4 linked regions of the Homo sapiens genome follow. The protein of the gene in region 3 interacts with the protein of the main gene of each other region in a pairwise test. Each region holds a gene or a part of one and is shown on either strand. Other genes may lie near its edges.

Evidence for each region.
Region 1: the proteins of PNLIPRP1 (region 3) and SLC34A2 interact in binary tests that used the Homo sapiens proteins (3 or more experiments, as listed by UniProt).
Region 2: the proteins of PNLIPRP1 (region 3) and NEMP1 interact in binary tests that used the Homo sapiens proteins (3 or more experiments, as listed by UniProt).
Region 4: the proteins of PNLIPRP1 (region 3) and CYB5R3 interact in binary tests that used the Homo sapiens proteins (3 or more experiments, as listed by UniProt).

The regions. Positions count from the first base shown.
Region 1 is NC_000004.12:25,651,532-25,659,110, forward strand, and holds the start of SLC34A2 (sodium-dependent phosphate transport protein 2B), read left to right. Parts: upstream 1-4,319; 5' UTR 4,320-4,359; intron 4,360-4,932; exon of another isoform or gene 4,933-5,033; intron 5,034-7,579. UniProt on the Homo sapiens protein: Involved in actively transporting phosphate into cells via Na(+) cotransport.
Region 2 is NC_000012.12:57,061,617-57,068,937, reverse strand, and holds part of NEMP1 (nuclear envelope integral membrane protein 1 isoform a precursor), read left to right. Parts: intron 1-4,198; coding exon 4,199-4,292; intron 4,293-4,752; coding exon 4,753-4,867; intron 4,868-5,593; coding exon 5,594-5,819; intron 5,820-7,321. UniProt on the Homo sapiens protein: Together with EMD, contributes to nuclear envelope stiffness in germ cells. Required for female fertility. Essential for normal erythropoiesis. Required for efficient nuclear envelope opening and enucleation during the late stages of erythroblast maturation.
Region 3 is NC_000010.11:116,600,690-116,608,010, forward strand, and holds part of PNLIPRP1 (inactive pancreatic lipase-related protein 1 precursor), read left to right. Parts: intron 1-382; coding exon 383-512; intron 513-3,340; coding exon 3,341-3,449; intron 3,450-4,452; exon of another isoform or gene 4,453-4,696; coding exon 4,697-4,864; exon of another isoform or gene 4,865-6,214; intron 6,215-7,321. UniProt on the Homo sapiens protein: May function as inhibitor of dietary triglyceride digestion. Lacks detectable lipase activity towards triglycerides, diglycerides, phosphatidylcholine, galactolipids or cholesterol esters (in vitro).
Region 4 is NC_000022.11:42,632,346-42,639,666, forward strand, and holds part of CYB5R3 (NADH-cytochrome b5 reductase 3), read right to left. Parts: intron 4,502-7,321; coding exon 4,370-4,501; intron 1-4,369. UniProt on the Homo sapiens protein: Catalyzes the reduction of two molecules of cytochrome b5 using NADH as the electron donor.

The sequences.
Region 1 (7,579 bases), on a different chromosome or scaffold from region 3:
GTACTAATAGTCATTACCATGATTGATCTTTTAGGCTGTCTTTGACAAACAGAAATGGACAGTGTCGTACGGTTCCAGCATTTAACCTCTCCTCCACCTCAATCTTACTTCCCTACGTTTCTCTTTGCCTCTTCTTTCTCACTTAGTTTTGAATCAATTATACTTTGTCGATCTGTTAGCTGTCTTAGATCCTTTTAGGAGCAGCATACAAATAGAAAAATACAGTCTCCCATATCCCACAACCAAATATAACCACAATGAACATTTTTGTGTATTGCTTTCCGGTATTTTTCTCTGCATATTTATGTACATATTGAAGCCAGGTTGAAGACAGCCTGTAATTATGTCAGCCCTGTGTTCTGTTCCGTTAGCATTTCTCCATTTAAACCTGACTCTTTGAAGTCCAGTGCTGTCTCATGACTAGATAACACATTATTTGACTTTTCTGGAATTCTGGCTGTATCTAAGGGGATAGGTTTCCTGTCACTGAGCCTGACTGAACAATTCTGAGATTATCAACACTGCCATAGGGCCCCGAAAAAGCGTCTAATGAATGCAAAAGTTCAAAGCGGTTTTGTTCAGGTGTTATTTTTGGAGACACTTTCTCAGGCTTTTATGATGCAATCCACTTTGTGCCCCTCTCTTGCAGCAGCTGCGGCCAGGGAAAAAGCACTAAGTGGGCTTGCTCACTGGTCCTCAGGGGTGGGTACCCTGGGCAGGTCAGCCCAGAAGTCAGCTGCCTCCTCTCCAGGCCCTGCCTGGACAGCTGAGAGTCAAGCAGACAGTTATGTGCCATCCCTACCTCTTTTCTGTCTTCAGTAACTGGCAGCTTCATCCTGCCAGAGAGTTTGGAATGAGCTAGGACTTTCCCATCAGTCTGAACTCCTGGGTTTTCCCAGGCCTGGTGACTCAGAGGGTAAGGCACCGAGCCGAGGAAGAGAAAGGAGAACCTGGACTCCTGGGTGCCTTTGTCTCACCACACAATCACCTCCCAGGAAGGCTGTCATCCAATCACTCCTGTGGAATCTCTCTGCCACTTTGTTGTAAAGAAAGTCAGCCCCAGTGAAGGGTAAAAAGAAGTGCCAGAGGGCCTTGGGGACAAGCCATATACTGGTAGAAAGGGCACTGGGGCAGGGTCCGAACAGCTGAGAGTATGTCTAGCACCAGGATGAAAATCAGTAGTTCACAGAGCTGCTTTGTTTGACCTACTCCGTATTTTTTTAATGGTACATTTCACATAAAGACCTGTATATCTGGCTTCCCCACAAAAGTCAAGATCTGACAGCATCTGACTATATTTTCTCATGCAATATCTGAAGCTGGGTAGCAGCCAGCCCTGGATGGGGTGTTTCCTCTCCAGATTAACACAGAGCCTACCAACTTGTTAAATCTCACCTCATAGGACAATAGGCGCAAAAATATACTGAAATGAGTTGAAAAAATGGTAATACTTTTTTTTTTTGAGACAGAGTCTCACTCTGTCGCCCAGGCTGGAGTGCAGTGGCACGATCTTGGCTCACTGCAAGCTCTGCCTCCCAGGTTCATGCCATTCTCCTGCCTCAGCCTCCTGAGTAGCTGGGACTACAGGCACCCGCCACCATGCCCGGCTAATTTTTTTTTGTATTTTTAGTAGAGACAGGGTTTCACTGTGTTAGCCAGGATCATCTCGATCTCCTGACCTTGTGTTCCGCCCGTCTCGGCCTCCCAAAATGCTGGGATTACAGGCTTGAGCCACTGTGCCCGGTTTGGTGACACTTTTTTGATGAAAGTATTTTTTTTTAATTTAATTTTTTTGAGACAGATTCTTATTCTGTCATCCAGGCTGGATTGCAGTTAGCTCTCACTGCAACTTCCGCCTCCCGGGTTCAAGTGATTCTTGTGACTCAGCCTCCTGAGCAGCTGGGATTTTTTTATATTTTTAGCAGAGACGGGGTTTCGCCATGTTGGTAGACGGGTCTCCAACTCCTGGCTTCAAGTGATCTGCCTGCCTCGGCCTCCCAAACTGTTGGGATTACAGATGTGAGCCACCACACCCAGCCTCGATGAAAGTATTTTAGATGTTTGTATTTATACATAAGGCTCTATGTTTGAAGTACTAAATGGTGAGAGTATTTTGTATCTCAGATGGAATAACGATAGGAAAATGTTCTTCAGCAAATTGTACTCTCCTAAAGGGAGAGATTATAGAGTGATGAACACAGACACGCCATCTACCTTTCCTCCAGACTTTGTAAAAAAAAATTATATAAATTACAATCCCAAACTAGAATCAGATACCATCCCTGATCTACTACCAAGATCTATACACATTAAGAGAACAATGTTCGGGATTGAACCTGTTTTGCCTTTTTAATCGGAACACAAAAGGGATACCTTTTTCTTTCTCCAAGTTTTTGAAATTTTGGTCTCCCTCCTACATTCACTCCTTGTTGAAAGTAATGGAAAGGCAATTAGGTCTGTGTCCCAAATGAAAGCCCACAGTCAGGAGGGGATTCTCATTGAGGTGACTGTCCTGTTAAGACCTGCTCCTGTGAACCCCCAAGCACAGGGCAGAGCAGGACATGAACTAAGAGCCAGGCTTTGCCGAATCCGGGTCGAGTTCACCGACAGCAGTGTGTGCAGCACGCTTCCTCCTCTGCACCCTGGCAGTAGAGCCCTTCCTCATTGTAAAGCCAAGTGGTGTCTGCAGTCCGCCTTGCCCAGGGCTGGAGGCAGAGCTGAGCTTGGTGAACAGGTGCCAGGGGATTCCTGTCATCAGTGGACTATGCTTTAGAAGCTGCTTGTTGCAAAGGTACTGGTTGATCATTGTCTGAGAGTTGGATCTGAAGGCCAACACCCACTAGCAAAACCATCATCCCTGTAATAACAGCAACCCAAGCAGATTTGATTTCTCCAGTGAAGGTTCTAGATGAGTCTAATCAAGGCTTCCCACCCATCTTCTCCCAACACCAGAGTTTCCCTGTGAAAACGATCATGGTTAACTCGCACTGAATACTATTTATGTGCCAAGTACCATTCCACATTCTTTACATATTTTAGCTCACTTTACTCCAACGGGGACCATTATTCCCAGTTTGCACATAAGCAAATGGAGCCAGGGAAAGCAAGGGGCAGAACAGGGAACTGATTTCCCGGAGTTTCGGCCCAGAGTCAGTGTGCTTAGCCACCGCCAACACCAGCCCCAGAGCTCTAGGCTCCTGGAAGTCGTGCTCCCGAGTCCTTCCCCTTGCACAGTGGAGAGAACTCGATGTTGGAATGAAACCAGCTAATTCCAGTAGGGTGCTTCCGCTGTTGTGAGGAGCTGGGCAACTAGTAAGCTCACTGAGCCTCACTGTGCTCCACTATAAAACCAGGAGAGTGCGCAGCAGAGGAGAGGGTCTGGGTTTCAGAATAAGAAGCAGGTTTTCTTCCTGCTCAGCAAATCCTGGGTAATTGTATCATATCCCCTAACCCCTTAAACCTCAGCTAGAGAGGGCGCCAGTCTTAGCCCCAGGGAAGGCTTTCGTGTGCACATTGGAGACAAAGCCTGCCCAGCAGTGCCCGGCACAGAACTGGGGAGCTGTTGGGATAAGCATGGGGGTGGACTCTCCCTGGGACAGATCCTATCTCACAGCAGTTTGGAGAACTGTTGTATACACACGCAGGTGACACGAGGCAGAGCAGGATGTGAAACGAGCGCAGTGGTTTGCCAAACCCGCAGCAGGCTTAGGACGGAGTGGTGAGAACAGCCCCCTTCCTTTTCCTCAGCTTGACGGTCCCAGCCTTTCCCATTGCGGACCTAGAGCCCAGACTCCCAGGGCAGAAAGCGCCCCACAGACTGATAAAGGTGAACAATCCAGGCTTTGTTTCCAAGGGCTTTATCCCTGACTTTCCAACTGGCTTTTATCTGTGTCTTCACGTCTCTGACCTCTTGAGCCTCACAGGAGCTAGACTAGAAGGTTCAAGTTCTTGAGGAGAAGGCAGGGGCGGGAGAGCCCCACTTGCGGGAATCTCGTGCGGACCGAGTCGGGGCGGGAGAGGGCGCGCACCAGCCAGGCTAGGGCGCGCGGGGCGCCGAGGGGCGCGGGGCCGTTTGGGGCCGTTCGGGCCAGTTCGCGCGGCGGGGCCCGTCGGAGCTTTTCTCTCGGCAGCCTGGCTGGCCGCGCGTCTTCTCCGCGCAGCGGGCGAAGTCGCGATGGGTTCATTAAGGCGGCAGGTAGGCAGTGCCCCGGCGGCGGCTGCGGCAGGCGGTCCTGGAATGTGCGAGGGGCGTGATGACAGCGGCCAGCCTCTTTGCGCAACACCTTCGCCATATATACCCGGGGCGCTGCGCTCCACCTGGCCGCCGCCTCCAGCCCAGCACCTGCGGAGGGAGCGCTGGTGAGTACCGCCGCCGGGGCAGGGGCGCTTCCTCGCTCTTTCAAGGACTTTGATTCACTTAATTCTTGCAAATACCTCTCGGTGCTGACTTCAAGGAACTTGGCTGGCTTTGGGCCGCAGAAGTGAAAAACACAAAGCTCTCCACAATGTTCAAGTTGTTTTCTTCTTAATGTTACGGTTATTGCTTTTATTACAGCTTTTGCTGCTACACTCTTACGATCGACAGTGTTATTAATCAGCCACACTTGTGGATTCTAAAATGATCACTGTTTTGAGAGTCGTGGTTTGGAAGAGGAAAGGCCCAGGGGATAGAAATCTCCACCTAGGAATCAGGATAGCTAGGCTCTTTGTGGCTGGGTCACCAACTAGCCATGTGACAACGCTAGTCCCTGTGAGCCCCTGGGCTGCCGTCTTCCATTCTTTATAAGAAGGGGAATGCGACATCTCAGGACCATGAAAATTCTAGGTTTGTGGTGGCTGCCTGGTGATGTGACACTGCCCCCCACCCAAGTGTGACTTCCACGTGGTACAGTGCTTGTTTGCAGTTATTTAAGGTGCCTAGGAGACAGTCTTAGTTTGTTTCTATTAGGGCCCGTGGCCATCAGCGAAGGGTCCGTCCTTCAGCCGTCTTGGGGAGCAAAGCCCGCAATTTATGTTTTCCAAGCCACAAATGGGTGAGCAGGCTGGGGAGATAACTTACAAGGAGATGTGCACAGGAGTGGTTGGGTTCGGGGACTGCGCATCCTCAGGCCAGAAAGTTGGGGGCTGCATGGCATGGAGTTAGTTCAGGTTCCCTGCAACGGTGCCTGCCACCGGTGGCTCGCACTGCGCTGAAGAGAGTTGGAATCTCGTTTTCTTTGAGGAGGTCCCTTTTTCAAACATGTTGATTTCATGGAAGCAGCTTGTGGATTTCATCACTCGAGTCCCCTCTTCCTGTTTGGGTGCCCCAGGGGGTTTCTGTGTTAGCCCTGATCGCTCTGGGCCTTGTCGTTCTTTCCTTTTTCCTTCTTCCCTTGTGTGCTGGCAGTTCTTTAACTTGTCCTGGGTTGGGTATTCTTGGAAAACTGTGCTTGTAGGAGTGGCCGTTGTTTCAGATTGTTAAAGAAAAACAAAAATAAAAAAGATTGCCTCTTTTGTCCCATGCCCGCTGATCATGATCTTCTCTGCTTTTGTAATTTGGGGAATGGGTGATAAGAAAGGCGTGCTTTGTAAAAGGTTTGGATGCTAAACAAATTGCCCCATCCAAAACTCCCCAAATTGCTCAACTGTCTCAATGAAGCAAGTCCCCTGTGGTATGAGGATGGGCTTCTGATTGTTGCTGTTAGACACAAAGGGGACAAAAAAATAGCCCGAATTCAATGCAATGAGGAAAACAGCCTCACAGAATCAGAGTGCTTTGGAATAAACTGGGCTTTAGTAACCAGTTTCAGGCATCTTCCACTCCTCCATCCTCACCCACACCCCCACTTCCATTCTGGGGACCGCAGGGAGCAATCAGGACATCCCAGGGAATTTATTCATCTCAGTGAATTTTTAAAATGCAAAGGTACAAAAAGAGGGCTATAAAAAGATTGCGGTATTTTTAAGATGTTTATATTTACAAATTTAACTGCTTTAACCTCCCCCCCCAATACAATGCAGCACAACTGATATAGTTACAAGTTATTTACAGGATTTATTTTAAGATATCATAAATACAAATTGATAGTGCATGGTGAGGGTGTGGTTTGGTGATATGGCCCAAGTTTAAAGTTTATTAGTGTGCCACATCAAAAATGTAAACTCAAGTTATCTATCAATGTGAGGCCCAGGCCAATTGCTTCCTTGACTCCTCTCATCACTACCACCATTGTGTCCTTGAAGAGATTATTATTAGCAGTAATGTAGGGACAGGGTCTCACTATGTTGTCTAAGCTGGTCTCAAACTCACAGGTTCAAGGGACTCTCCCACTTTGGCCTCCCAAAGTGCTGGGATTATAGGTGTGAGCCACCACCCTTAGCCTATAGGGGTGATTATTTTTCCTTGTGATGGCTGTAAGGGAAGCAGAGGAAAAGGAGACGTCACCCTCTTGGGAATTTTTGAAGCACAGAGTCATTCTTTCAAAGTACAAGAAAGTTTTCCTGGGCATCCCGAGAACACTGGCCTGCATGAGGTTGAAATTATCTCTGCAGTGTTGTGGTGCCTATGTGATTTGAAGCCATTAACCTCTCTGTGGCTCAGTTTTTCCCTCTATAGAATGAGGATACTGTTCATTTTAAAGGAGACTCTAAGTTTACATAGATACATGAAATGCTGTGAGTAAATTTGTGCACCAATTTGCAAGTGCCAGGCACAAAGTCTTTAATAAACACTACTTGGCTACCATGTGCCCAGCACTGTCCTATGTGCTGGGGATACAATGGCCATACTCTAGTCCCTGTGCTTGTGAAGGCTGCCATTCTGATGGGAGACTGTGTGTCCATGTTCTGGTTCCTCACAGGACCACTGCCCTGGGCTTCCTCCTCTCCCCATTTCTTCAGATGGCCTTGACTGCTGCTCTGGGCACAAGGGGCCCAGGAACAGGTCTTGGTTGGAGAAGCCCAAACAATGCGAATGTAGGGGTTGGGTGACTGCCAGGTACCCTACATTCCCCTGCTTCCCAAGTCTGAGCCAAGTCAAGAAAGTTCCTCTCCTGGGTCTTCAAGAAAGAATAAGAGCTCTTTCTGGCAGTGGGTGCCCATGTGGTGCAGGAAGTGGAGCCAAGAGGGTGAGGCACACAGGCAACTCGGTTATAGAGGCCAGTGTGGCAGCGGGGGAGCCCCTCCCTGGGCTTTAGTAAAAAGCTTCCAAATGATGACTTCTCCCTTCCTCTGCTGCTTCTGGCAGGTGGCAAGAATGTGCTGGAGTGAGGCCTTGGGAAGGCTGGGAGAGAACAAGGCAGTGGTTGCGCCAGGGCTATGGGGGTAGGAGAAAGGCTTAGAGGGGCTCAGAGCTCCAGGGTACATTCTCTGCCTGCACCATTTAATACCCACCCCCACCCACCCACCCCACCCCCACCACCCTCCCCTCCTGCTCATCCATTGCAACATTCTTGGGCGGGCATTTCCAGCATCTGAATGATCATGTGGGAGTGACCTGCAGACATGCCAATCTAGCCAGCTATCCGAAAACACTCAGAGCCCTCAATGTGCCTAGACCTAAGGCCCCTGGGTGCCCTGGTGCTTTGAGGGCTGGAGAATT
Region 2 (7,321 bases), on a different chromosome or scaffold from region 3:
GTTAAGGTGTCATCTTTACAGGTCCATGGGTTGATGAGTTTCATTTTGTTCAGACGTAAAGAAACAAATAGCTTCTGGGTACGGTGGCTCACGCCTGTAATCACAGCACTTTGGGAGGCCAAGGCTGGCGGATCATGAGGTCAGGAGATCGAGACCATCCTGGCTAACACGGTGAAACCCCATCTCTACTGAAAATGCAAAAAAATTAGCCAGGCGTGGTGGCGGGCGCCTGTAGTCCCAGCTACTTGTGAGGCTGAGGCAGGAGAATGGCGTGAACCCAGGAGGTGGAGCTTGCAGTGAGCCGAGATCGTGCCACTGTGCTCCAGCCTGGGCAACAGAGCAAGACTCCATCTCAAAAAAAAGGAAACAAATATCACAGCTCAGCCTGGGCAACATGGCAAAACCCTGTCTATACAAAAATTAGCTGGACGTGGTGGTATGTGCCTGTGATCCCAGTTACTCGAGAGGCTAAGGCACGAGAACCGCTTGAGCCTGGAGGCGGAGGTTGCGGTGAGCCAAGATCACACCACTGTACTTCAACCTGGGCCACAGAGGGAGACCCTGTTTAAAAAAAAAAAAAAAAATCAAGTGTTTATTCATTTTTTCCTTTAGGAACCTACTAGTTAAGACAGGTGAGACTGACATGTACAAATATGAAGAAAATATATAGGTAACTAAATAAACATTGAATGAAGGTAAAATCAACATTAAGTTTGTATACAAGTAAAAAGTATTTGTGGAGTAGTGAATGCAAGATTAACAATTGGAGTTTGAAGTTGGGCTGGAGTGGGGTTGCTGGAAGTTGTTATTTTGGTGATGCTGAGAGAAACAGGGAGGAATAACTGGTAGAAAAAATCTGGAATGGGGGGCTGGTTGTGGTGGCTCACCCCTGTAATCCTAGCACTTTGGGAGGCTGAAGGGGGAGGATAACTTGAGCCCAAGAGTTTGAGACCAGCCTAGGTAACATAGTGAGACCCTGCCTCTACAAAAAAATACAAAAATTAGCCAGGCATGGTTGTGCATGCCAGTAGTCCCAGCTACTTGGGAGTCTGAGGTAGGAGGATCACTTGAGCCCAGGAGGTTGAGGCTGCAGTGATCCGTGATTGCACCACTGCACTCCAGCCTGGGTGACAAAATAATAATATTCAGGTCGGGAGAGATGATGGGGATGTGAATAGGACATTACGTAAAGGCTGATTATTGGGAAATACATGAGGGAAGACCTTTAATCCTAATCTTCATAATCTGGCAGTAACTACATAGCATCAGTCTCTACAGTTCTCTGACCTCAAGTTTTGGGCAAATATAGTCACACATCACTTTATTGTACTTCACTTTTTTGTGGTTCACAGATAGTGCATTTCTTTCCAAATTGAAGGTTCGTGGCAACCCTGGGTCAAGCAAATCTATCACACCGTTTTCCCAACAGCATGTGCTCACTTGGGGTCTGTGTGTCACATTTTAGTAATTATAATATTTCAAACTTTTTCATATGATTATAACTGTTATGGTGATCCATAATCAGTGATCTTTGATGCTGCTGTTGCAATTATTTTGGGGCACCACATGTCCATGTAAGACAGTATATTAGTTCATTTTCTTTTTTTTTTTTTTGAGACAGAGTCTCGCTCTGTCGCCCAGGCTGGAGTGTAGTGACGCGATCTCGGCTCACTGCAAGCTCCACCTTCCGGGTTCATGCCATTCTCCTGCCTCAGCCTCCCGAGTAGCTGGGACTACAGGCACCTGCCACCACGTGCAGCTAATTTTTTGTATTTTTAGTAGAGACGGGTTTCACCGTGTTAGCCAGGATGGTCTCGATCTCCTGACCTCATGATCTGCCTGCCTCAGCCTCCCAAAGTGCTGGGATTACAGGCGTGAGCCACTGCGCCCAGCCTATTAGTTCATTTTCATACTGTTGATAAAGATACCCAAGACTGGATAATTTATAAAGAAAAAGAAGTTTAATGGACTCACAGTTCCTGGTGGCTGGGGAGGCCTCATAATCATGGCAGAATGCAAAAGGCACATCTTACATGGCAGCAGGCAAGAGAGAATGAGAACCAAGTGAAAGTGGAAACCCCTTATAAAACCATCAGATCTCATGAGACTTATTCACTACCATGAGAACAGTATGAGGGCAACTGCCCCCATGATTCAATTATCTCCCACCAGTTCCCTCCTACAACACGTGGGAATGATGGGAGCTACAATTCAAGATGAGATTTGGGTGGGGACACAGCCAAACCATATTAGACAGTGAACTTCATCGATAAATGTCATGGGTGTTCTAACAACTCAACCAATTGGTTATTCCCGTCTCCCTTCTTCTTGGGCCTCCCTATTCCCTGAGAAACAGCAATATTGAAACTAGGCCAATTAATAACCCTAGAGTAGATTGTGAGTCTTCAACTGAAAGGAAGAGTCATACATCTCTCTGATTATGCTTAGTGAGAACAGCAAAAGCCAAGACAGACCGAAAGCTAGACCTCTTGTCCTGAGCAGTTAGCCAAGTTGTGAGTGCAAAGGGAAAGTTCTTGAAGGAAATTAAAAGTGCTACTCCAGGGAACACACAAGTGATAAGAAAGTGAAACAGCCTTATTGCTGATATGGAGAGAGTTTTAGTTGGCTGTTGAGAAGATTAAACCAGATACAACTCTTTTTTTGTTTGTTTGTTTGTTTTTTTGAGACAGAGTCTTGCTCTCTTGCCCAGGCTGGAGTGCAGTGGCGTGATCTCGGCTCACTGCAAGCTCCGCCTCCCAGGTTCATGCCATTCTCCTGCCTCAGCCTCCCTAGTAGCTGGGACTATAGGCGCCTGCCACCACACCCAGCTAATTTTTTTGTATTTTTAGTAGAGACAGGGTTTCACCGTGTTAACCAGGATGGTCTCGATCTCCGGACCTCGTGATCCTCCCATCTCAGCCTCCCAAAGTGCTGGGATTACAGGCTTGAGCCACCATGCCCGGCCAGATACAACTTTTTTAAAGCTAAAGGCTGATCCAGAGCAAGACCCTAACTGTCTTCAATTCTGTGAAGGGTGAGAGGTGAGGAAGCCTCAGAAGAAAAGTTTACAGCTAGTGAAGGTTCTTGGTTCATGAGATTTAAGGAAAGAAGCTGTCTTATTACATAAGTGCAAGGTAGGCTAGGCGTGGTGGCTCAGGCCTGTAGTCCCAGCACTTTGGGAGGCTGAGGCGGGCAGATCACTTGAGCCCAGGGAGTTCGAGACCAGCCTGAGCAACATGGTGAAACCCTGCCTTTACAAAAAATACAAAAAAGTCATGGTACCAGCTACTCGGGAGGCTGAGGTGGGAGAATCACCTGGGCCCAGTAGATCAAGGCTGCAGTGAGCCATGATGACGCCATCGCACCCCAGCTTGGGCAACAGAGTGAGACTTTGTCTCAAAAAAAAAAAAAAAAAAGATGAACCAAGCACTGATATAGAAGCTGTAGCAAGTTATTCAGAAGATCTAGCTAACATCATTGTTGAAAGTGGCTACAATTAAAGAGCTCCTCAGTGTAGACAAAATAGCCTTATACTAGAAGAAGATGCCATTGAGGACTTTGATAGCGAGAGAGAAGTCAGTGCCTAGCTTCAAAGGAGGGGTGATCCTCTTGTTAAGGGTTAATGCTGTTGGAGGATTGACTCCAGTTTTGAAAGAAGTTGTGGTAAAATGCTATCAGACAGTATTGCATGCTTTAGAGAAATCTTCATTGAAAGGATGAGTCAATGCAGCAAACTTCATTATATTTTAAGAAATTGCCACAGCCACTCCAGCCTTCAGAAACCACTGCCTTCATCAGTCAACAGCCATCAACATGGAAGTGAGACCCTCCACCAGCAAAAAAAATGATGACTCACTGAAGGCGTAGATGATCTTTAGCAGGTTTTAGCAAAGTATTTTTAATTAAGGAATATATATTTTTAAGACATAATGCTGTTGTACACTTAATATACTATAATATAGTGTAAACAATTTTTATATGCAGTGGGAAACCAAAAAATTTGTGTGACTTACTTACTGCAATTGCAATATTTGGTTTATTGCAGTGGTCTGGAACCAAATTTGAAATGTCTCTGATGCTTGTACTGCTCTAATCTTGTACCTTTTAAAATCTTTCGGCTGGGTTAGTTGTCCTAGTTTCAACAGTGCTATGTATGAAATATATACATATGGTCATGAAATACATTTTTTTCCTGCAGAAGTCAAATTTTCTACTACTCTACTGGGATGACTGTGGGAATTGTGGCCTCTCTGCTAATCATCATTTTTATACTATCTAAGTTTATGCCTAAGGTAAGTATCAGAATCTTCATGTGCAGCTAGAATGAATTTGGATAGCTGAAGGACTGTTTTCCTGGGTAATCTTAGAAAACTGAAAATGTGTATTGATGGCTGATGAGTCAATATCCTACTCTCCTTGATTCAGAAAGGTACTTTCCACGATGAAACTTGGAGCCTGATTACAAATTCTTTCTTTTTATATAAAATCCTGTGCTCAGAGGGGGATTAAAGTCTGCTTCCTGTTTTTTAATTATATAGCCAGGCTTTTAAGTTATTTAGCATTTCATCTTCCCAGTGTTCGTTGCAGACTGTACCATTTTAAGTATAAAGGACATCTTTTTAAGAGAAGTGTTTTTTGTGCATTTTGAGTAGGTTGAATTTTTTAAAAAAAAAATCATAGTTCCATTTTGCTTCTTTTATGTATGGAAAGCCTGTTGTAACTTTTTGCTTTCACTTCTACTCTCTGTCTTAGAAAAGTCCCATTTACGTCATCCTGGTGGGAGGCTGGTCTTTTTCTCTGTACCTCATTCAACTAGTTTTTAAAAATTTACAAGAGATCTGGAGGTGTTACTGGCAGTATCTTTTAAGTAAGTGTTGTCGGTTTTGCTTTCCTTTTGTACGTTTATAGGCTGTTTCAGTTAATTTGATCATGAAAAGATTTTGCCTGCTTATGGGATTTAATAGTTCATGTCATTTTTTTAAACTTTTAAAAATCATAGTTTTTCACTTATTTCTAATCCCTCTACAATTATCACCTTCTCTTAAATTAGAATGGTGCTGTTAAGGCGAAGATGTTCATTTATTGGTATTTATAAATATACCTTTCTTTACACAATAAACATCTTTCTGAAAAGCTGTAAGTTGACTTTATTAATGGAATCATATTTTAAATATACTTGGGGACCTTAAGTAAAAGACTCCGCAGTTAATTTTTTTCTCCTTCATTTCTGAATGAACTGCTGTAGATTTTATTTACAAAGTAAAAATCCTTGGTCATATAGATAGTAACCTTTGAGTTATCCTTTGAAGGGTGATTAATCTGGATTTCTGTATATTGGTTTTTTAAAATAGTCTATTTCAGGGTTGTTCAACATGTACCTTTAATGTTCTGTTTGAACCAAATAAATTTGGGACAGCAGAAAGGATAGAAACTTAGAGAAATATATTCTAAGAAAAAAGTGTGAAAAATTAAGTAAAAATCTGATTTCCTAGTTCAATTGGTGCTATATAGTAAATTAACTACTGCTTCCCACACAAATTATTTTTACCAAGTATAGATGAAAAAGAATGTCTTCTGATAACTCTTCTCATAGGTTATGTCCTCACAGTTGGATTCATGAGTTTTGCAGTATGTTACAAGTATGGGCCCTTGGAGAATGAACGAAGTATCAACCTGCTGACCTGGACCTTGCAGCTGATGGGCCTGTGTTTCATGTATTCTGGCATCCAGATACCACATATTGCCCTTGCCATTATCATCATTGCTCTTTGTACTAAGAACCTGGAACACCCTATTCAGTGGCTGTACATCACCTGCAGGTGACTGAAAGGCAATGTAACTTAATATTGACAGGTACATTGTGGGATGCAGTTGCAGCAAGAGGATACAGAGGTGTTGACCTGGGAGCTTCTTTGTTAATGAAAAGTCATTGTATTGTACTTCCACTTTTGTTCCTTCCCGAGTCTATTTTTTTTTTTTTACTTTCTATAGGAATTTTTATATTTTTATTCTAGTCATTTTATATAAAATGTCTAGTAAAATGTCATGTGTTCCTGTTACCACAAGGTGGTGCAAATTCTATCACTGTTTTTTTGAGATGGAGTCTCGCTCTGTCGCCCAGGCTGGAGTGCAGTGGCGTGATCTCGGCTCACTGCAACCTCCACCTCCCGGGTTCAAACGATTCTTCTGCCTCAGCCTCCTGAGTAGCTGGGATTACAGGCATGCGCCACCACATTCAGCTAATTTTTATATTTTTAGTAGGGTTCCCCATGTTGACCAGGCTGGTCTTGAACTCCTGACCTCAAATGTCAGGAGTTCATAAAGTGCTGAGGAGCTCCCAAAGTGCTTGGATTACAAAGTGCTGGGATTACAGACATGAGCCACTGCGCCCCGCCACAAATTGTATCGCTTTTATACCGTATGCTCATTGAGGTCTCCTGGGTTCAGATTTTTTTTTTGAGACAGAGTCTCTCTCTGTCACCCAGGCTGGAGCACAATGGCGTGATCTCGGCTCACTGCAGCCTCCACCTCCCGGGTTCAAGTGATTCTTCTGCCTCAGCCTCCCGAATAGTTGGGACTACGGGTGGGCGCCACTATGCCTGGCTAATTTTTGTATTTTTAATAGAGATGTGGTTTCACCATGTTGGCCAGGGTGGTCTCAAACTCCTGACCTCAGGTGATTTGCCCACCTCAGCCCCACAAAGTGCTAGGATTATAGGCGTGAGCCACCTCACCCAGCCCATTTCAGACTATTTCTCAGTGGCTTTCAGATTGCTCTGGAGGTCTTAGTCTTATTTTAAGATGTAATTCATAGCATGTTTTGTCACCTTGCATAATAAATATGGAATGTTACTAGGTCCTGAAGTTGTCTATTATAGATAGTCAAGGTGATGCTTTCAGTTTGGGAAACCAAGTTACTGGACCACAATCTTTTTTTTTTGAGATGGAGTCTTGCTCTGTCACCAGGCTGGAGTGCAGTGGTGCTATCTCAGCTCACCGCAACCTCTGCCTCCTGGGTTTAAGCGATTCTCCTGCCTCAGCCTCCTGAGTAGCTGGGGTTACAGGTACATGCCACCATGCCCAGCTAATTTTTGCATTTTTATAGTAGAGATGGCGTTTCACTATGTTGGCCAGGATAGTCTCAATCTTGACCTTGTGATCTGCCCACCTTGGCCTCCCAAAGTGCTGGGATTACAGGTGTGAGCCACCTTGCCCGGCGTTTTTTTTTGTTTTTTTTTTTTTTTGAGATGGAGTTTTGCTCTTGTTGCCCAGGCTGGAGTGCAATGGCATGATCTCGGCTCACTGCAACCTCCGCCTCCCT
Region 3 (7,321 bases):
ATCATGTTGGTAGCCTGAAACTGGCCACAGTCAGAGTATTTACACCACTGAAAATGGTAAGCACTGCAATCCAGGGTTTTTGTCCCAGAGCTTTTGCTGCTTATCATTCACCAGCTCCACTCAACAGAAGGTATAATTGATCTAACCTGGGTCCTGGGCATCAGTATTTTTTAAAGCTCCTCAAATAATTCTAATGTGTTGTGCCTAAAAGTTGGGAACCCTGATCCAGATGAAGGTAATTTAGAGATCATCTGCTCCAACCCCTTTGTTGTCACAAAGGAGAACGCTTAGGCTGTAGGAAAATTGAGTGTCTGCCCTCTCAGATGTATCGATCATACAAACACAAATTCTCCTTACAGTCCCATCTATCTCTTCTCATTAGGACAAGTGCTTCCCGTGTCCAGATCAAGGATGCCCACAGATGGGTCACTATGCTGATAAATTTGCTGGCAGGACAAGTGAAGAGCAGCAGAAATTCTTCTTGAACACAGGAGAGGCTAGCAATTTCGCTCGTAAGTTGCACTTTGACTACCTGCCCATGTAAAGAAAGTATATAGTTTCTGTTACAAATGAGGGGCTTGCTTTCAACCTGAAATATTTGTGGGTACATTTTAATTATCTTAGAAATGGACACATTTACCGAAACTATTGCAGTTACAAGTAAACTGAGGATTTAGACAGAGTGTGCATTTCTTCCGTTCTATTTCTGCGGCATGAAATGAGAGCAAGCAACTAGTATAATTAATGGGATGAGGCCAGTTTGCACATCCTTGTGACCAGCTACCCTGAATTTTTACCACTCCACAGTTCATTGTTTCTTTCCTTTTTAAGGCCGCATCAGACACACCTGTTCTCTTCATTCAGCAAAGACGTAATTGGTACCAGCTCTTTGCTGGGCTATGTCCCTTAAGAAGCCCAACTCCATTCTCTGCTTTCCCCTCTGTCTGTGCATCCCTGATGCCCAGGGGCTGCCTCGCTGGTGGAGTGCAGGCAGGAATCAGGGGGAAGGATGATTTCTCTCCAAAACCTGCTGAATGGACTAAGACACAGGGTAGAGACTGGGCATGTTTGGGCCACTTTGTACCAACCTGCCCCATGACACTTCCATAGGAGGTGACCCAGTAAAGACAGAGGTTACATATTCATATAAATGTATAACACATCTTACATAGTTTTTAAAGTCAGATTTATTGAGGTATAATTTATATTTGGCAAAATGCACGCTGTTTAGCATACACTTGTATGAGTTTGGACAAATGAATAGTTGTGTAAACACCTCCAAATCAAGATACAGAACACTTCTATCACCATATATATCACTCTGTAATTTTTTTTTTTTTTTTTGAGACGGAGTCTCGCTGTGTCGCCCAGGCTGGAGTGCAGAGGCGCAATCTTGGCTCACTACAACCTCCCCCTCCCGGGTTCACGCCATTCTCCTGCCTCAGCCTCCCGAGTAGCTGGGACTACAGGCGCCCGCCACCATGCCAGGCTAATTTTTTTTTTACATTTTTAGTAGAGACGGGGTTTCACCATGTTAGCCAGGATGGTCTCGATCTCCTGACCTTGTGATCCGCCTGCCTCGGCCTCCCAAAGTGCCGGGATTACAGGCGTGAGCCACCGCACCCGGCCCACTCTGTGTATTTTTTTTGTAAGAAGACATTGATTAATCAATCCTTCCACTGATGTTGTGATGCATGAAATACTTGCCAATATTTCAACAACAAATTAAACACTCAAAAACCAGGTATTCATTCCTCAATCAACATTTATTTATGGGCCACAGACTATGCTAGACACTGAGGATGCAGGGACGAACAAGAGACTCCTCTCATGAAATTAATAATCCAGCCAAAGACAGAAACTGGGCAAGCAACTACAAGCGTGTTGGGCTTGGTGGCTGTTGCCATGACATTATGGGACAGAGAACCTGGCCCTGACCAGAAGGAGGGTCAGGGTCAAGGTCTCTGAAGACACGAAAGATGAATAGGAGTTAGGCAAGAATCATGTCTGTGTATATTAATGTACATCTGTGCACATGTGTGGGTGTATGAATGCATGTGTGAGTGTGTTTGTGTATGTACCTTTGTGTGTATGCATGTGTTTATATACGTATGTATATGAGTCTGTATGTTTATGTATATGTATGTGCATGTGTATGTATATTTGTATGTGGGTGTCTATGTATGTGCGTGGTTAAATGTGTGTAGGTTTGTGTGTGTGTGCACATACACATGCATGTTTGTGTAGATGTATGTGTGTGTGCACATGCACATGTTGTGTATATGTATTTGTGTATGTGCACGCACATGCATGTTTGTGTATATGTATTGTGTGTGCACATGCATATGTTTGTGTATATGTATTTGTGTGTGTGCACGCACATGCATATGTTTGTGTATATGTATTTGTATTTGTGTGCGTGTGCATGCAGGCCCTGGGACAGCATTTCAGGTAGAAGCCTAAGTGACAGCTGCTCGTGCACCTGCTCTGTGCTAGAGACTGCCCAGGGCCCTGGGGAGCAGAGAGGAAACACAGTCCCCGCCCTCGAGGTGCTTGCCAGGCTGCACTCCCGAGCTACCTTCCCAAATGTGGAGACAAGCCCCTATTCCCTCTCTCTTCACCTTACCTTACTGTACTGCCATTCTGGGGCAGAGCTGGCTAACAGAACTTTCTGCAATGAGGGGCATATTCTGTGTAGCCATTAGCCTCATGTGGCAACTTAACATTTGCAACACAGCGAATGAGTTTGAGAAACTAAATTTTTAATTGTATTTAATTTGGATTTAAATGTAAGCAGCCACATGTGGCTGGTGACCTCCTCCCTGGGCAATGCAGTTCTAGAGGGGGATACTGCTAAATACATACTTCTCCATAAGGCCTTGTTTGATTTGTAGATTAACAAATAGAATTTCTTATACTTTGGCTGGGTGTGGTGGCTCACGCCTGTATTCCCATCACTTTGGGAGGCGGACACGGGCGGATCACTTGAGGTCAGGAGTTGGAGACCAGCTTGACCAACATGGCGAAACTCTGTCTCTACTAAAAATACAAAAATTAGCCAGGCGTGATGGTGTGTGCCTGTAGTCCCAGCTACTAGGGAGGTTGAGGCAGAAGAATTACTTGAACCTGGGAGGCAGAGGTGGCAGTGAGCCAAGATTGCACCACTACACTCCAGCCTGGGTGACAGAGTGAGACCCCATCTCAAAAAATAATAATAATAATTTTTTAGAAAAGAATTTCTTATGCTTTGTTGCCTCAGAGTAAGAGAAGGAGACAAGTCTGGGATGTAGGCTACTTATTTTGTGTGTGAATAAATTGAACTCTTCCATCTCCTGTGCAGGCTGGAGATATGGGGTTTCCATCACACTGTCTGGAAGAACAGCCACTGGTCAGATCAAAGTTGCTTTGTTTGGAAATAAGGGAAACACTCACCAGTACAGTATCTTCAGGTAATTTCCTATTTTAACACTACGTCTCATTTGATGATATACACAGCCTTCAAACCACACACTTAATTTGAACACTTATCATCTCTTTATATGTCACTGGTTTTTAATTATAGTCATGCAACATGTAACAACATTTTAGTTGATGGACCACATACACAACAGTTGCTTTATAAGCTTGTAATACCATATTTTTACTGTACTTTTTCTATGTTTGGGTGTTTAGATACACAAATACTTACCATTGTGTTCCAGTTGTCTACAGAACTCAATACAGTAACATGTAGTACAGGTTTGTAACCTAGGAGCAATAGGCTGTACCATACAGCCTAGGTATGTAGTAGGCTGTGCCATCTACGTTTGTGTGAGTACATGCTATGATGTCCACACAATGATTAAATTACCTAAGGACACATTTCTCAGAACATATCTCCATTGTTAAGCAACGCAGGACTATATAACTTTATGTACTGATGTTAATTGCAGACTTCTGCTAATAATTTTTCTTTTCTGTTATAAACCTAGGCATTTCGTCCTTTCTCTCTCTTTTTTTTTTTTTTTTTTTTTTTTGAGAAAGAGTCTTTGCTCTGTCACCCAGGCTGGAGTGCAGTGGCACGATCTTGGCTCATTGCAACCTCCGCCTCCCGGGTTCAAGAAATTCTCGTGCCTCAGCCTCCCAAGTAGCTGAGATTACAGGCATGTGCCACCACACCTGGCTGATTTTTGTATTTTTAGTAGAGATGGGGGGCGTTTTGCCATGTTGGCCAGGCTGGTCTCGAACTTCTGACCTCAAGTGATCCACCCATCTCGGCCTCTCAAAGTGCTGGGATTACAGACGTGAGCCACCATGCCCGGCCTCTTTCTCTTAATAGATGTTTTTTTAAACATAAATCTAATATTACTTCAGATATGCTGTTTTCTGATTAGTGCAATAACACATGCTTATTGTGCCATACTATGTGGCCAATTTGTTACTGTACAAATAATTCTTCCAAAACATATAAAATGATATGCAGGAATTCTATTTTATTTTCTATTAGAAAGCTTTAAGGAAAAATTAACTTGAGTTTTAAAAACCATAGTTTGAGGTGCTAGCATATAGCTGGCTTTTCCATTTCTCCATCCTTTATTTGGAAATTAATTCGGAAAAATAATCCTGTTAATCTAGAAGAGAAAACAGCAGCCTGGCATTGTATGGTAATTAGAACTCATTTCCGTGAACAGGGATGTTTATGTTTCTCTATTTCAAGGGGGATTCTCAAACCAGGCTCAACCCATTCCTATGAGTTTGATGCAAAGCTGGATGTTGGAACAATTGAGAAAGTCAAGTTTCTTTGGAATAACAATGTGATAAATCCAACCCTCCCCAAAGTGGGTGCCACCAAGATCACTGTGCAAAAGGGAGAAGAGAAGACAGTGTATGTATCTTTGCTGGCTGGTGCCTAAAAATGTTTGCAGAGATTCATGTTATAATGAAAACCCACCCTAGAAAGTTACGTGTAGTTAAGCAAGAAAAGCCAAGAAAATTTACCCATCTGTGGCCCCTTCTCCCCAAACAAGCAACTGACAAACAGCATAAAATGTTTCTGTTGGGTGCACCTTATTGGGTGTTCTCAGCACTGCCTGTGGGAATACAGAAGATAAGGCTGCACTTTCAAGGTAAAATGAGAAAATACAAGAAAGAGAACAAGAAATCCTTTCTGAAGGGTACAAGTTTATAAGTATGGGCTAGTGAATAGCTATACTTGAAAGAGGAGAAGACCAATTACATTTCAGGATAATAAAACGGAAAATAAATCGGTTTTAGGAAAAGATCGAAAATTTTACATAGGACAAGAATGCACTAGGATTGCAATACTTGTGAGATCCTGACCTGTGGTCTCCCTGGCTTTGGGCCTGAATAAGCACAGGGCCGTGGGTAGGAAAAAGGGACGGCTGGAGGAAAGTTGGAGTGGTGACCTGAGAGGGCAGAGCGACTGTCTCTCAAACCTCAGACCCCAAGTCTGGCTAGTAGAACATGTGGCTTTGTGGGAAGGAGATCCTGGGCTCTCAGCCACCGATGTTCTTGAAGTTTGGGGTTAGGTGGAGTCACCGAGTTCAGGTCCCAGAGATTGTCACTCCCCCAGGTGGGGAGGGTGGGGTGGCAGAGTAGAATGGGGGCTGACTCCACATCTGGGTCTCCTCGAACTGGATGACTTAGTGAGGTTCTCCTTATCCCCACGAGGCAAGGAGAACAAAGAGGTTGGCCCTGCCAGGTGGTGGGTGGAACCAGGAGGCCTCATAAGCTAGAGCATAGTACAGAGGAGGCTGGGCCGGGCTGGTCGGGAGCCCTGTGCAAGCTGGAGGTGCAACCAAATCCTTTCCTCCCTGACCCCATCAGAGGATACTCAGCCTCTAAATTCAGCTCCCCAAGGCCCCATTAGCAAGCATCCCATGGCCTGGATCCTGGGACTGTGTGGTTAAAAACATGTCAGGTGGTGGCATCATTGGAATCTTAAAAATTAGAGGTGTTCCCAGGAGATGACTTGCTCACAGGTAAGGCATACAAGTCCAAATCAGCCAGGGCATTGCATCTTCCAGGTTTTCTGAGGAAAGGCTGAGGCTTTCTGAACTTTCTGCAAATGGAACAGAACATACTTAAGGCTGCACCTGAGGTCCTGTGCCCATCAGCTGTCACCTGCATTCCAGTGGCTGAGTGCAGCTCCCCTCGCTGTCTGCTCCAGAAAGACTCTTTCTTAAGAGCAGCTGGATATAAGACATCAGGTTTTCTAAACAGAGGAAAGTCAAAACAGCTTCAAATCTCTCAAACTAGTTTGGGAAGTAAAAACACTGAATTAGTTGAATTACTCAAACATTTTCCTGTTATGAAAATGGCCAGTAACATTTAATAATAATAATAATAATAATAATAATGAAGAAGCTAAAGAAAATCAAGATTTTGGTCCAAGCTCTTCTCAGAATCCCCTCATATTTTTTAGTAACCTCATTGGGGTTTCAATTCCTACTAAGGAATCTGCCGACTAGGATTCCCTCCAATGACACAGTATCCAAAGAGAAAGGCAGCCCTCCCCCTCTTTATTTCTCCGTCCCCCTCTCTTTATTAAGTACCTTTGGTAAATGTACCCTTGCAAATGACTTTATTCAGTACCTATTGTATGGCCTGGCAAACAGTAAGGGATGCAAACACTGAGCCTACACTCAAGGAGCTTACAGTTCAGCTGTTGAGAAAAATCAGACTTATGGTTCACAGGGAAGGTCAAAAGACCAAATAAAGAACTCCCAGGAGAGGCTCAGAAAGACAGTGGCCAAGGAGGAAAGCAGAGGGCCGCGGGGAGGCTGTGATGGAAGGAAGGGCAGCTCTCAGGATGAGGCAGGGAGTAGGAGGGAGGAAGGGCACAGGGGCAGGGCAACAGGTCCAAGTGCATGAGGGGCGACAGGGCCCAAGTGCAGGGAATATGATCGGAGGCCTCCGATGCCAAGTTAGGGCTTCTTGGCAGAAAAAATGAAACACAGAAGAGAAAGTGGGAAGGGGCCAAGGAACACCAGTGAGGAAATGGGGCAAAGCTTCCGAGCTCACAGGTGGTGAGGCCTGAGAGAAGTCCGTGGTTCTTGAACAACCACAAAAATAACTGCTTACATCTGCATTGTTTTTTGTTAATTGTAAGACTTTTTACATTTACCATCATGGGATGTTACGTTCTTATCATGGAATTCTCAACAGTCGTGGGAGAATGACTGAGATGGAATCTCGCTCTGTTGCCCAGGCTAGAGTACAGTGGCATGATCTCAGCTCCACTGCAACCTCCACCTCCTGGGTTCAAGAGATTCTTGTGCCTCAGCCTCCCAAGTAGCTGGGATTACAGGCATGCACCACC
Region 4 (7,321 bases), on a different chromosome or scaffold from region 3:
GGATGGTGTCATCACTTAGAGGGGGACAACAGACCTCTCCAACAGGGCAGGACATCACAGATGCCCATCTCGGCTCAGTACGAGAACTCTCCGACCTGAGCAGTGTTCCAGCACAGAGCAGCTGCCTCAAGGAGAGACCCGTCCCTACACGTGTGAGCAGAGGCAAATCGCAGGAAAGACGGTGCAAACGCCACTCAGGATCAGGTGTGCAGGGGGCCCACCAACCTCTCCCAGGCAGCCCAGGCCTCAAAGCTGCCTCTACCAGAAGCTTCTGCATTAGGGGCAAACAGAGCCCCAAGGCCTTCTGGAAGTGGATTCCAGGACTATCAACTGGTCCTAAGGGTCAAGGTCAGACACCCATGTACCAGAAAATATTTGGAGGAAGAATAGAAATGAGATGGCCAGGCGTGGTGGCTCATGCCTGTAATCCCAGCACTTTGGGAGGCCGAGGTGGGCGAATCATCTGAGGTCGGAAGTTCGAGACCAGTCTGAACAACATGGAGAAATCCCGTCTCTACTAAAACTACAATGTTAGCCAGGCGTGGTGGCGCATGCCTGTAATCCCAGCTACTCAGGAGGCTGAGGCAGGAGAATCACTTGAACCTGGGAGGCAAGGTTGCAGTGAGCTGAGATCGCACCATTGCACTCCAGCCTGGGCAACAAGAGTGAAACTCTGTCTCAAAAAAAAGAATAGAAATGAGGACAAGAGATGAACAATTATGGTGCTGGCCAACCTCTAGTAGGGCAGCAGGGTGGGGCAAAGCACAGAGCACCCAGAGCAGGCCCGCTGCGGACCCCGCAAAGCCACCATGGGCACAATGAGGGGGCAAAGCTGCAATCCTAGGACATCTGCCACATGCTCCCTTGTGTAACATCCCTATGATGAAATACTAAAAGGATCCATGTTGTATGGCTGGCTACAAAACCAGGTTATCAAAAAAAGAAACTGAGTGTGCACACACCCGCACCTCCACACACCCGTGTATGAACGTGATACCCACATAGGGTCTGGCAGGCTCACGCTGAGCTGTGACCTGGGCCCTCTGCACGGGGCCCTGGGATGCGGCAATGGGGCAGGGGTGGAGGTCATACCTTACAGAGTTTTTGCTGTGAGCACATATAAATCATACATTATTTCTGGAATTAAGAAACAGTAGGGTCAGACGTGGTGGCTCATGCCCGTAATCCCAGCACTTTGGGAGGTCGAGGCGGGCGGATCACCTGAGGTCGAAGTTCGAGACCAGCCTGACCAACATGGAGAAACCCCATCTCTACTAAAAATACAAAATTAGCTGGGCATGGTGTCGCATGCCTATAATCCCAGCTACCTGGGAGGCTGAGGCAGAAGAATCACTTGAACCTGGGAAGTGGAGGTTGCGGTGAGTCGAGATTGTGCCATTGCACTCCAGCCTGGGCAACAAGAGCGAAAGTCCATCTCAACAACAACAAAAAGGAACGACAGTAACAGAGCCAGGCATAGTGGTGCATGCACATGGTCCCAGCTACTCAGAAGGCTTGTGCCCAGGAGTTTGAGGTTGCAGAAAGCAGCCTGGGTGACAGAGCGAGACCTTGTTCTAAAAAAACACAAACAAAAACAAAACAACCCACCAATAACAATAACAAGGGAAAATACCGTTAAAAAACAGGTTTCAAAATGTTATTATTTCATTTGGGTAAGAAAAAAACATGTGTGCCTGCTTACATAAGTATAAAACATATCACAGGGCCAGGCACGGTGGCTCACGCCTGTAATTCGAGCACTTTGAGAGGCCAAGTCGGGTGGATCACCTGAGGTCAGGAGTTCGAGACCAGCCTGGCCAACATGTTGAAACCCTGACTCTACTAAAAATACAAAAAAAAAAAAAATTAGCAGGGCGTGGTGGTGGGCACCTGTAATCCTAGCTACTTGGGAAGCTGAGGCAGGAGAACCGCTTGAACCTGGGAGGCAGAGGTTGCAGTGAGCCGAGATCACACCATTGCACTATAGCCTGGGCAACGAGAGCAAAACTCCATCTCAAAAACAAACAAACAAACAAAAAATCATATCGCAAGGTTAAGTGTGGTCTCATCTGGGAGGTGGTGATTTACTTTTTTTTGCTTTTTATTTTTTATTTTTTTGAAACAGAGTTTCGCTCTTGTCACCCAGGCTGGAGTGCAATGGTGTGATCTTGGCTCACTGCAACCTCTGCCTCCCAGGTTCAAGCGATTCTCCTGCCTCAGCCTCTCAAGTAGCTGGGATTACAGGCATCTGCCACCACGCCCGGCTAATTTTCATATTGATTGATTGATTGATTGATTGAGACAGCGTCTTGCTCTGTAGCCCAGGCTGGAGTGCAGTGGCACGATCTCGGCTCACTGCAAGCTCCACCTCCCAGGTTCACGCCATTCTCCTGCTTCAGCCTCTGGAGTAGCTGGGATTACAGGCATCTGCCACCACGCCCGGCTAATTTTCATATTGATTGATTGATTGATTGATTGAGACAGCGTCTTGCTCTGTAGCCCAGGCTGGAGTGCAGTGACACGATCTCGGCTCACTGCAAGCTCCACCTCCCAGGTTCACGCCATTCTCCTGCTTCAGCCTCTGGAGTAGCTGGGACTACAGGTGCCTGCCACCACGCCCAGCTAATTTTTTTTTTTTTTTTTTGAGACGGAGTCTTGCTGTCACCCAGGCTGGAGTGCAGTGGCGCAATCTCGGCTCACTGCAAGCTCCGCCTCCCAGGTTCACGTCATTCTCCTGCCTCAGCCTCGCCAGCGGCTGGGACTACAGGTGCCTGCCACCACGCCTGGCTAATTTTTTGTATTTTTAGTAGAGATAGGGTTTCACCGTGTTACCGGGATGGTCTCAATCTCCTGACCTTGTGATCCGCCTGTCTCAGCCTCCCAAAGTGCTGGGATTACAGGTGTGAGCCCAGCCACGCCCGGCCAATTTTTTGTATTTTTAGTAGAGACAGAGTTTCACCGTGTTAGCCAGGATGGTCTCGATCTCCTGACCTCATGATCTGCCCTCCTCGGCCTCCCAAAGTGCTGAGATTACAGGTGTGAGCCACCACGCCTGGCCTAATTTTCGTATTGTTAGTAGAGATGGGGTTTCACCATGTCGGCCAGGCTGGTCTTGAACTCCTGACCTCAGGTGATCCACCGGCCTCGGCCTCCCAAAGTGCTGGGATTACAGGCATGAGCCACCGTGCCTGGCCAATAATTTACTTTTCATTTTGTATTTTTTTGCTTCTCTCTGGTTGTCAACTTCTCTGTGAGCTCCTGGGACAATTACAGACACTTGCCCCAACAGTTACAGGAAACGGCCAGCTCCGTGCCATGGAAGCCTGAGATTCCTGTGAAGCCTGAGTCAGAGGCACCAGGCACAAGCCCAGGGTGGAGACTTGGGCCCTGGCAGATGATGTTCTCTGCTGTGACTCAGTTTTCCCTGCCACACCCCTCCTGTGCCTGCTGGGGGTGGCCAGAAATAGAGCAAGGGAGGGGCTCTGAAGAGGGCAAGTGACCGATGGAAGCAGCCTTTACTGGGGGCAAGGCAAAAGAGGGAGAGGATGGTTTTAAATCATAATCAGAGCTTTGAAAAAAAGGAGTCAGGCCGGGCACCACGGCTCATGCCTGTAATCCCAACACTTTGGGAGGTGGAGGTGCGGGGATCACTAGAGCCCAGGAGTTTGAGACCAGCCTGGGCAACAGGACGAAACCCCACCTCTACAAAAAATACAAAAATTAGGCTGGGCGCGGTGGCTCACGCCTGTAATCGCAGCTACTCAGGGGGCTGAGGTAGGAGAATCACTTGAGCCTGGGGAGGCAGAGGTTGCAGTGAGCGGAGATCGCACCACTGCACTCCAGCCTGGGACACAGGGCAAGACTCTGTCTCAAAAAAAAAAAAGTATGAACTCACTAATGAAAGAAAGTAAGAATCAAACAGGGCAGAGGAAGCCCACACAGCTCAGAGCACCCAGGGAATCTGCACAGATGTGAAAGGTGTCCAGGTCCAGTAGTACCAGGCTGTGGGGAATGACTCTGGGGGAGGGGGAGGAGGGAGGAGACCTTATCTTCAAATCTCTCACCCCCTGCATTCCTACCCCATAAATGGGGGATTGAACCTAAAAGTTCTGAGGGGTTCCTTCCATTCTGACCTTGCATGAGGCAGTGAGTGTGGTTCAGAGAAGGGGCTCTGTGGACAGAGAGACCAGGGTTTAAATTCCTCTGCTACTTCCTGGTGGCCTTAGCAAGAGACATCACCTTGCTTTCTCCATCTGTAAAATGGGTGGACAACAGTATCTACTTCAGAGCAGGACCATGCCCTGAGCACAGAGTAGGTGCTGGGCAATGCTGTGATGCTGACGAGGCAGCGGCGGCGGCCGGCACTCACCTCCCGGTCGATGAGCCGCAGCGGGTACTTGATGTCCGGGCTCTCGAGGGTGATGGCTGGCGTGGAGCGCTGGAACAGCTTCATGAGCAGACTGTACAGGAACCAGACTGGGAAGAGCACCATATGGCCCAACTGAAACGACAGGACCCGCGGGGTCAGTGCAGGAGCCTGCCTTTCCCCAAACACACCGGCTTGTCCACACTACCAGGCCTCTGCTCACGCTGCCCCCTCTGCCAGGAGCACCCTCTCCCCACCACCCTCATCCAGAAAGCTTCATCATCCATTTTGGTGCCCACTAGGAGAAGCTATAAAGACCAGCCTCATGACACCTGTCACTGAGCATTACCTGGGCTTCTATGCTCAGTACCATGAGAAAAAGCTCCATTTCCTCTGAAGAGCCAGGACCAAAAAGAGCTGTGGGTCTAAGCACATATCCTTTTTCACTTTGGCTACTAGGAAGCTCAGAGTAAAATTAATCTTGAGCATAATGTATTTGTGCTCCTTCCTTCTCTTGCTTCCTTCAGTCAACTTCCCTGGTCTTATTAAGTGATGTCAAGTTCTAGCTTGATTTAGACAAACAGACAAATAATAACCCCAACTCAGAATCTATCTGAAAGGCCTACACTGACCAAATGGCTCTATGGCACCTTTAAATCCAGTCCCTTGGGGCCACTGGGATTGATGCTCTCCTCTTTGCTCTCCCACAGAGCACACTAGAACAAGCCAGTGAAGCTGAGTAAACTGAGCCACTTCCCCCAAATGACATCCATGAGTGTCCCTGAGCCCTGGGGTTCTGCCATCAGGTGTAAGGGGAAGCGAAGCACTGAGCCAGGCACTGGGAAGGTCACTGGCTGTGTGACCCCGAGAAAGTCCCTTCCCCTCTCAACCTGAGTGGACCAGGTGATCTGCAAGGCCCCCAGAGCTGAGACCCTACAGCTCAGATCACCAAAGCCAACAGCCTCTGGGATCCCAGGGCCACGTCGGGTACCACACGGGCACGGCTCTCGCAGCAACCCCGTGTGGTAGGCACTGTCATCACCACCATTTCGCAGATGAGGAAACAGCCCAGAAAGGCAAAGCGACTCACCCAGTCACACAGCTGGCAGGTGAGGAGCTGACCCAGAGTCCACCCATCCCTTATACCACGCTGGGATACCTCATGACCAAGTGGACCCTGCCACACGGCCCTGAGGGGCTGTTCCTCCCCAGCCCCTGCCCCCGACATCTCAGTCTCCTGAAGGCCCTAAAAGGGGGCTGGGCATAGTGGCTCCAGCCTGTAATCCCAACACTCTGAGAGGCGGAGGCAGGTGAACAGTTTGAGTCCACGAGTTCAAGACCAGCCTGGGCAACAGGGTGAAACTCCATCTCTACAAAAAATATAAAAAGTTAGCTGGTTGTAGGCCCGGTGCAGTGGCTCACGCCTATAATCCCAGCAATTTGGGAGGCCAAGGTGGGTGGATCACCTGAGGTCAGGAGTTCGAGACCAGCCTGGCCAACAGGGTAAAACCCCATCTCTACTAAAAATACAAAAATTAGCCGGGCGTGGTGGCAGGTGCCTGTAATCCCAGCTACTTGAGAGGGTGAGGCAGGAGAATCGCTTGAACCTGGGAGGCGGAGGTTGCAGTGAGCCAAGATCATGCCATTGCACTCCAGCCTGGGCAACAAGAGTGAAACTCCATCTCAAAAAAAAAAAAAAAAAAAAAAAGTTAGCTGGTTGCAGTGTCACACGCCCGTGGTCCCAGCTACTCAGATGGCAGAGGCAGAAGATTGCTTGAGCCCAGTAGTTCGCGACCAGCCTGGGCAACATAGCAAAACTCTGTCTCTGTTGAAAAAAAAAAAAAAAAAGACCCTAAAAGTTGGTTAGAAAACCTGAATCCCTGGGCGGGCACAGTGGCGCATGCCTGTAATCCCAGCTACTCAGGAGGCTGAGGCAGAAGGTTGCCTGTGGAGGAGGTTGCAGTGAGCCAAGATCACACCACCACACTCCAGCCTGGGAGACAGAGCAAGACTCCATAAAAAAAAAAAAAAAAAAAAAAGGCCGGGCGCGGTGGCTCACGCCTGTAATCCCAGCACTTTGGGAGGCTGAGGCGGGGGGATCATCTGAGGTCAGGAGTTCAAGACCAGCCTGGCTAACATCGTGAAACCCAGTTTCTACTAAAAATACAAAAAATTAGCTGGATGTGGTGGCGCATGCCTGGAATCCCAGCTACTCAGGAAACTGAGGCAGGAGAAATGCTTGAAGCTAGGAGATGGAGGTTGCAGTGAGCCGAGATCGTGCCATTGCACTCCAGCTTGGGCAACAAGAGTGAAACTCCATCTCAAAAAAAAAAAAAGGCCAGGCGCTGTAGCTCACACTTGTAATCTGAGCACTTTGGGAGCCCAAGGCAGGCAGATTACTTGAGGTCAGAAGTTCGAGACCAGCCTGGCCAACATGGTGAAACCCCGTCTCTACCAAAAATACAAAAATTAGCTGGGTGTGGTGGCAGGCTACCCCAGCTACTCAGGAAGCTGGAGCAGGAGAATCATCTGAACCTGGGAGGCGGAGGTAGCAGTGAGCTGAGATCGTGCCACTGCACTCCAGCCTGGGTGACAGAGCGAGACTCTGTCTCAAAAAAAAAAAAAGTGGGGGGGGACCGGGCACGGTGGCTCACGCCTGTAATCCCAGCACTTTGGGAGGCCGAGGCAGGTGAATCACCTGAGGTCAGGAGTTGGAGACCAGCCTGGACAACATGGAAAAACCGCGTCTCTACCAAAAATACAAAAATTAGCCAGGTATGGTAGCGGGCGTCTGCAATCCCAGCTACTCAGGATGCTGAGGCATGAGAATCACTTGAACCCAGGAGGCAGAGGTTGCAGTGAGCCGAGATCATGCCACTGGACTCCAGCCTGGGTGACAAGAGCCAAGACTCCATCTCAAAAAAAAAAAATTGAATAAGGCTTGTGGATTAGATA